Regions from separate parts of the Homo sapiens genome. Here region 2 is linked to region 1. The links come from fine-mapping of genetic effects on gene expression. Tissue or cell type: whole blood. Region 1 holds a variant in brackets; the other region holds the start of a gene. All regions are shown on one strand. Distances are from middle to middle.

Region 1 (2,757 bases):
AGTAACTGTTAGAGAAGGAGTTCCATGGTACAAACTTTGCACTCTCCATCTACGAAAGGTGGCAGAGTCCTTGAAGTGTTTTTCCTCTCTCCAGCCAGTCCCCACCACTACTGATAATTAAATCCTTCTTGTCAAAGGACAGGACTGGTTCTGGAACAGGTGATTTCAACATCGTGGTGAGTAGTATTATGGAAGCTGGCAAGCACTGTATAAGATGGATCCTTTTGTGCTCATCACCTGTCACGCAAAAAGGTTTGTTATTTTGTGATGATTTCCATGAAATCTCATGGGCTCTATTGGGGGAAAGTTACAAAGCAAGAATTAACAAATAAAGATAAGAGATGGGCCAAAGTTATCTATTGGACACACCATCGGTGGGCATTCCTTGTCCCCTTGCTGCTCTCCTTCTTATAGGGCAAGAGTGAGAACAACCTAGTGGGTGGGAGGGTAATCAGACTTATTGAGTAACATCAGTGTGGGGTTAGACACCAGCTCTCTGAGTTGCCTGGGAAAGTCAACTTTCAGCACCTGAAGGCACTGGGGTCTGTGGAAGGGAGAAACTGGTCTCATGAGCAGTTTGGACGAACCCCTCCTGTGGGGATAAGGTTGGGGGCCTCAGGTGCCAATTGGCTTGTTATCCAGACAATGCAGGTGAGCCACCTAGGTCAGTTGTTGCCAATCCTGATTGTGGCAGGGTACATTTTATTCATCTTCAGATCCCCAGCTCTTAGCACACAGCCTGGCATATGATAGGTACATGAACAATGTCTGATAATGTAATGATTGAATGTGCTTTTGTGCCAATTAAAAACAAGTAATTTGGGTTTTGCTCATGGAAGGAGAGGAGGGCTAATAATAGACATTGTTGCCTACATTTCTTGAATCCCTGAAAGACGGTATACACATTCTGCCCTTACTTTGGTAAAACCTCTCTGAAGAGTCCACAACTCTATGAGGAGGCTTCCTGGTTCAAGCAATATTTTTATTGAATTTTTACTATTTCTTTGCACCACTGGCCAATAAAGCCAGTGTCTAGGATTTGTTATACTGGCACTGAGACACTCAGTAAAGGAAGGCTCTGCTGGTGACAGCAGCTCTGGAATTTTCCACAACCACTCTAACAATCTTTTTGAATCTTCAGTACTTTTACTGAATTAGATACACAGTACAATGGGACACTAGCCACTGTTTGTAAATTTTTCATAAAAACAATTTGGAAAATGACACCCCTTAAACAATTAAATTAAATTAATTAATTTATTTATT[T/A]ATTTTTGAGATGGAGTTTTGCTCCTGTTGCCCAGGCTGGAGTGCAATGGTGCGATATTGGCTCACTGCAACCTCTACCTCCCGGGTTCAAGCGATTCTCCTGCCTCAGCCTTCCAAGTAGTTGGGATTACAGTCATGCGCCATCATGCCTGGCTAATTTTTTTTGTGTGTGTGTTTAGTAGAGACGGGGTTTCACCATGTTGGCCAAGCTGGTCTCGAACTCCTGACCTCAGGTAATCCGCCCACCTTGGCCTCACAGAGTGCTGGGATTACAGGCATGAGCCACCGCGCCCAGCCAACAGTTTTCTTTAGGGCAGTGTTTCTTATCTTATCACTGCTGAAAAGTCCTTTTAAGACTATTTCTCCACAGACTCCTGTTCTGAAATATTTTGTTTATAAATACATATTTTTGTTAAATAATAATCTTCCCAAGAGGAAATCAAGTAGTCAAGAAATTTTTTTAAACTAAAAGTATCCTTGAGGCTGTATTTTAAGTAAACAAACAATTATCTTTAAGTTTCCTAAAAACTTAAAGTTTCAGGAAAGCTTCAGTTTCAGTAAAAACTGAAAATAACTAGAAGAATTCTCATCCTCTTTATACCCTCGCTTCCCTCCCCACCCTCGCCCCCAGACACTGGTTATTACTTTCCTCAGCTGCTGGGATTCTGGGTATTCTAACTTTGAAACTAGAGTTCCAGAAACACCAGGCAGATAGAATAAAATTAACAAAAGCCTGTGGATTCTCCTAGGTTTTTTGCTATCCATTTACCCTCCTTACTGTTAATGGGTCTTTTACTGTGGCAGTTAGCCCTGCCTCAAAGTCTCCCAAACTGGGGACGATTAGCCCCAGCTTATTGCTAAGATAACATCAAAAGAGGCAATAAGCAAGTTGGCATAGGCAACACCTCTCACCTTAAGGAACTGTCTCCTGAGATGTAGAATAAATCACTTGTCCTCTTTAAATGAATCTCTTCACCATGGTTTTGCTTGATTCCCCCATCCTGAAGTTGCTGCTTTAAGATGGGTGGGAAAATCTCCAGCAAAAGCATAACAAAACAGCAAGTAACAGCAATTTTTTTTTTAACAGAAAAAGGATTATTTTTATTACTTTCATACATTGCCACAGCACTGTTTGGGAAAGATTAGAATCAATAGAAGTTTGGAAATCTGACCTTGGCTGGTGGAAGAATAGAAAGAATCTGGTTCTTCTTAATTTCCCATTCAGGTTCTCAGTGTTCCAGGAAGCAGTTTGCTCAAGTTTCTTTTCTCCATTTAGCTCTCCTGAATGCCCGACTTCAGTGCCTGGGCATTGCTGCCAAGGATCCCGCTGGTGCATTCAGCTGCCATTCAAGGCAACAGCCCTCCACACTGCCTCGCACTTGGAAGTTTGTCTTACAGCATAAAACAGGTGGAAGGACATTCTGCCTTTAGAGTTCTGCTGGCATGTCTTATCACTTCTGTTGTCCAGTGCCAAGAATGACAAAAATCTTT
Region 2 (2,757 bases), 23 kb after region 1:
GCTTGAGCTGTGACACACACGTACCAGAAAAGTGTGCAATTGCAAGATTTAATAGAGTGAAAACAGAGCTTCCATACAAAGGGAGGGGACCCAAAGAGGGTAGCCACCGCTGGCTTGAATGCCTGGGTTTATATCCTGATCATTGTCCCTCCTGTTGTGCTCTCAGGCGATAGATGATTGGCTACTTCTTTACCTCCTGTTTTTCCCTAATTAGCATTTTAGTGAGCTCTCTTTACTACCTGATTGGTCGGGTGTGAGCTAAATTGCAAGCCCCGTGTTTAAAGGTGGACGTGGTCAATTTCCCAGCTAGGCTTAGGGATTCTTAGCCAGCCTAGGAAATCCAACTAGTCCTGTCTCTCAGTACCCCCTCTCAACAGGAAAACCCAAGTGCTATTGGGGAGGTTTGACCACCGCTCTAACTGCTTCCTGCTGAATTGGGGCACAGTAGGGGTTGTGCAGTTGAGATTTCCTCCGTAGGGGTGCCTTGTCTCTCAACTAATTCAGTGGTGGCTACCTCGAAGCCCTTCTGAAGCTAAGAGGGAAAGAGACCAGCTCGCAAAGTCCCCTATGTTATCTACTCCTAAGTGGAAGCTGGGAGCTGTGAAAATGCACATCTAACAACCCTTAACTTACTATACCGACTTCTAAACCACAGTAGAAAATGAAGAAAAGTTCGGCTATGGGCAATAGACTCAACCTTTTGTTCTATGTCTAACCTATAAAATAGAAAAATAATACTGTCATCCCTCATCTCCCACCATACTGAACACGCATTAGGTGCTCAATGAATACTTGTCCATTTTAGTGAAGATTAAGAGGAATGAGACGGAAACTGACACTTGAGAGGCTGGCACACGCCAGAACTGCACCACACTTTGCACTCATAGCTCATTTACTCATCAGCTTGTGGTCAGGTAGGCATTACCGTCCCCATTAGAGAAGTCAACGGAGGCTCAGCAAGGACGGCCAGGGTCCCCCAGAAAGTAGAGGAGGACTTCAGGTTTAACCAAAAGCCTGTACTCTTTACACATGTACCCCATGCCTTCTCCACCAAAGCTCCTGGCACCGTGCTTTGCAGACAGACGACGCTCAACACATTTTGAGCAGAAGCGTGGTTCAGCACCAGGAAGGACACCAACTTTTGCAGAGACGACTCTTGGGATGGAGAAAGACTTCCCAAATCTTCAGGGTGCGGTCAAGACAGGGTAGGCTAGCGCCAGGGGAGCTAGTGGCTAGGCCCCAGGGCAGCTGGGGCCGAGGCCGAGCAAACGGCCAGGGGAGAGGCTCCCAGGAGCCCGATCTGCCGCTGGGCGACGCGAAGCCTGGCGGCTAGAGTCCCGGGCAGCCCGAGCACGGCGGGAAGGCGGCAGCAACAGGATCGGCAGGGATGGCGGGGACGGGGGAGGTCCATGTGCAGGGGCGTGCCGCCGGTGACGCACTTCCGCCCTGCCTGTTCCGGCTTAAAGGGGCCCCAGACAATCCTCGCAATAACAACAAAACCGGCGCGCCAGCGGTGGCGCAACGGCTCTCGTCCCCGCCCTCCTGCTACCTGTAGTCGCCTGGGCCGCCCCCGGCCCAGCCCTGCCTTGCCGCCACCCTGCGCTGTCCAGACTGAGGGGTCAGGCGGAGAGCCGGGCCGCGCCTTCGGTCAGCTTCTCTCCCTTTCACCCGCGCCTCCTCGCGAGACCCGGGGCTGGGCCGTGCCGGTCGCCGCGCAGCAGGAAGGGAGCGGCTGCCACGGAAAACGCCTGGCCGGACGGTGTGGCTGGCGGCCCTGCCTGGGCGCGGAGGGCGGCGGTGGCGGGCCCCGCGGCCTTCTCTCAGGTACCCCAGTGCCCGCTGACCGCCCTGAGCGGCCCAGCTGCTTCCCCGATCCGCACCGCGGGGCCGTGGCGTAGGGGCCTTGTTGCGTTCCAGCTTGGGGGTCGCGGTGGGGCGGGGCAGTGACCCCGGGCCGGCCGTTGTGCCCTCATCCCTCCCACCCTTCCTTCGTATAGCTTCCTTTCTCCTCACGACGGCCTCCACAGTCCGGAGCCCGGCGGAGCCCGGACCTGGCGGGGAGAGCTGCCTCCACGGCCGGGCACCCAGACCCCACCGTCGCAGTCGCCACCACCTCAGTCCATCCTTGGTACCGGCAATGGGCTTCGTATCCTCCAGTGCACTTGTAACTGACTTGGACACGGAATACTAAGAACTCACTTCTGTCCTCATCCCAGTCGCGCCGGCGGTGACCATCTCGGCTCTTTTGGGCTTAACTGCCGCTCCTCTGGACTCTGTCTGACTTTGGGGGCACCATGGACCAAAGTGGGATGGAGATTCCTGTGACCCTCATCATTAAAGCACCGAATCAGAAATACAGTGACCAGACTATTAGCTGCTTCTTGAACTGGACCGTGGGGAAACTAAAAACGCATCTATCTAACGTTTACCCTAGCAAACCAGTAAGTGTGTAAAAGCTGGGGGCAGCTGCTCTGACCAGCAGCTTTTCGTGCCGTGTACCCTCCTTTTTCCTGCTTCTCCCCTCCAGTCTTGAATCAAATAGGTCTCTTTTGGTAGACCGCGAGGTATTTTGAGTTCTGAGGTTGTGTCTCCTGAGTGTTCGAACCATCATTAATATTTTCCTGATGAGGTTCAGTTAATTAGTAAGAGGAAGCAGAAATATCAAGGGACTTAAGAATTGGCAGGCAAAGACCGGGCGCGGTGGCTCACACCTGTAATCCCAGCACTTTGGGAGGCCAAGGCGGGCGGATCACGAGG

Evidence for each region. PIP is the estimated chance that this variant, and not a neighbour inherited with it, causes the effect.
Region 2: HERPUD2 starts here. The variant in region 1 is fine-mapped to the expression of HERPUD2 in whole blood (TOPMed, PIP above 0.99).

The regions. Positions count from the first base shown.
Region 1 is chr7:35,716,550-35,719,306 of GRCh38, reverse strand. LINC03013 (long intergenic non-protein coding RNA 3013) reads right to left here. Exons shown (of 2, transcript NR_108083.1): 1 at 2,439-2,757; 2 at 1-237. Among named protein-coding and RNA genes, the nearest start is that of LINC03013, 1.5 kb to the right of the region's middle. The variant T/A (reference allele first, on the strand shown) is at 1,267.
Region 2 is chr7:35,693,868-35,696,624 of GRCh38, reverse strand. HERPUD2 (HERPUD family member 2) reads left to right here and starts at 1,490. Exons shown (of 9, transcript NM_022373.5): 1 at 1,490-1,824; 2 at 1,998-2,441. The coding sequence starts at 2,295. HERPUD2-AS1 (HERPUD2 antisense RNA 1) reads right to left here and starts at 1,419. Exons shown (of 1, transcript NR_136255.1): 1 at 1-1,419. RefSeq lists a silencer at 1,612-2,021 and an enhancer at 1,464-2,351.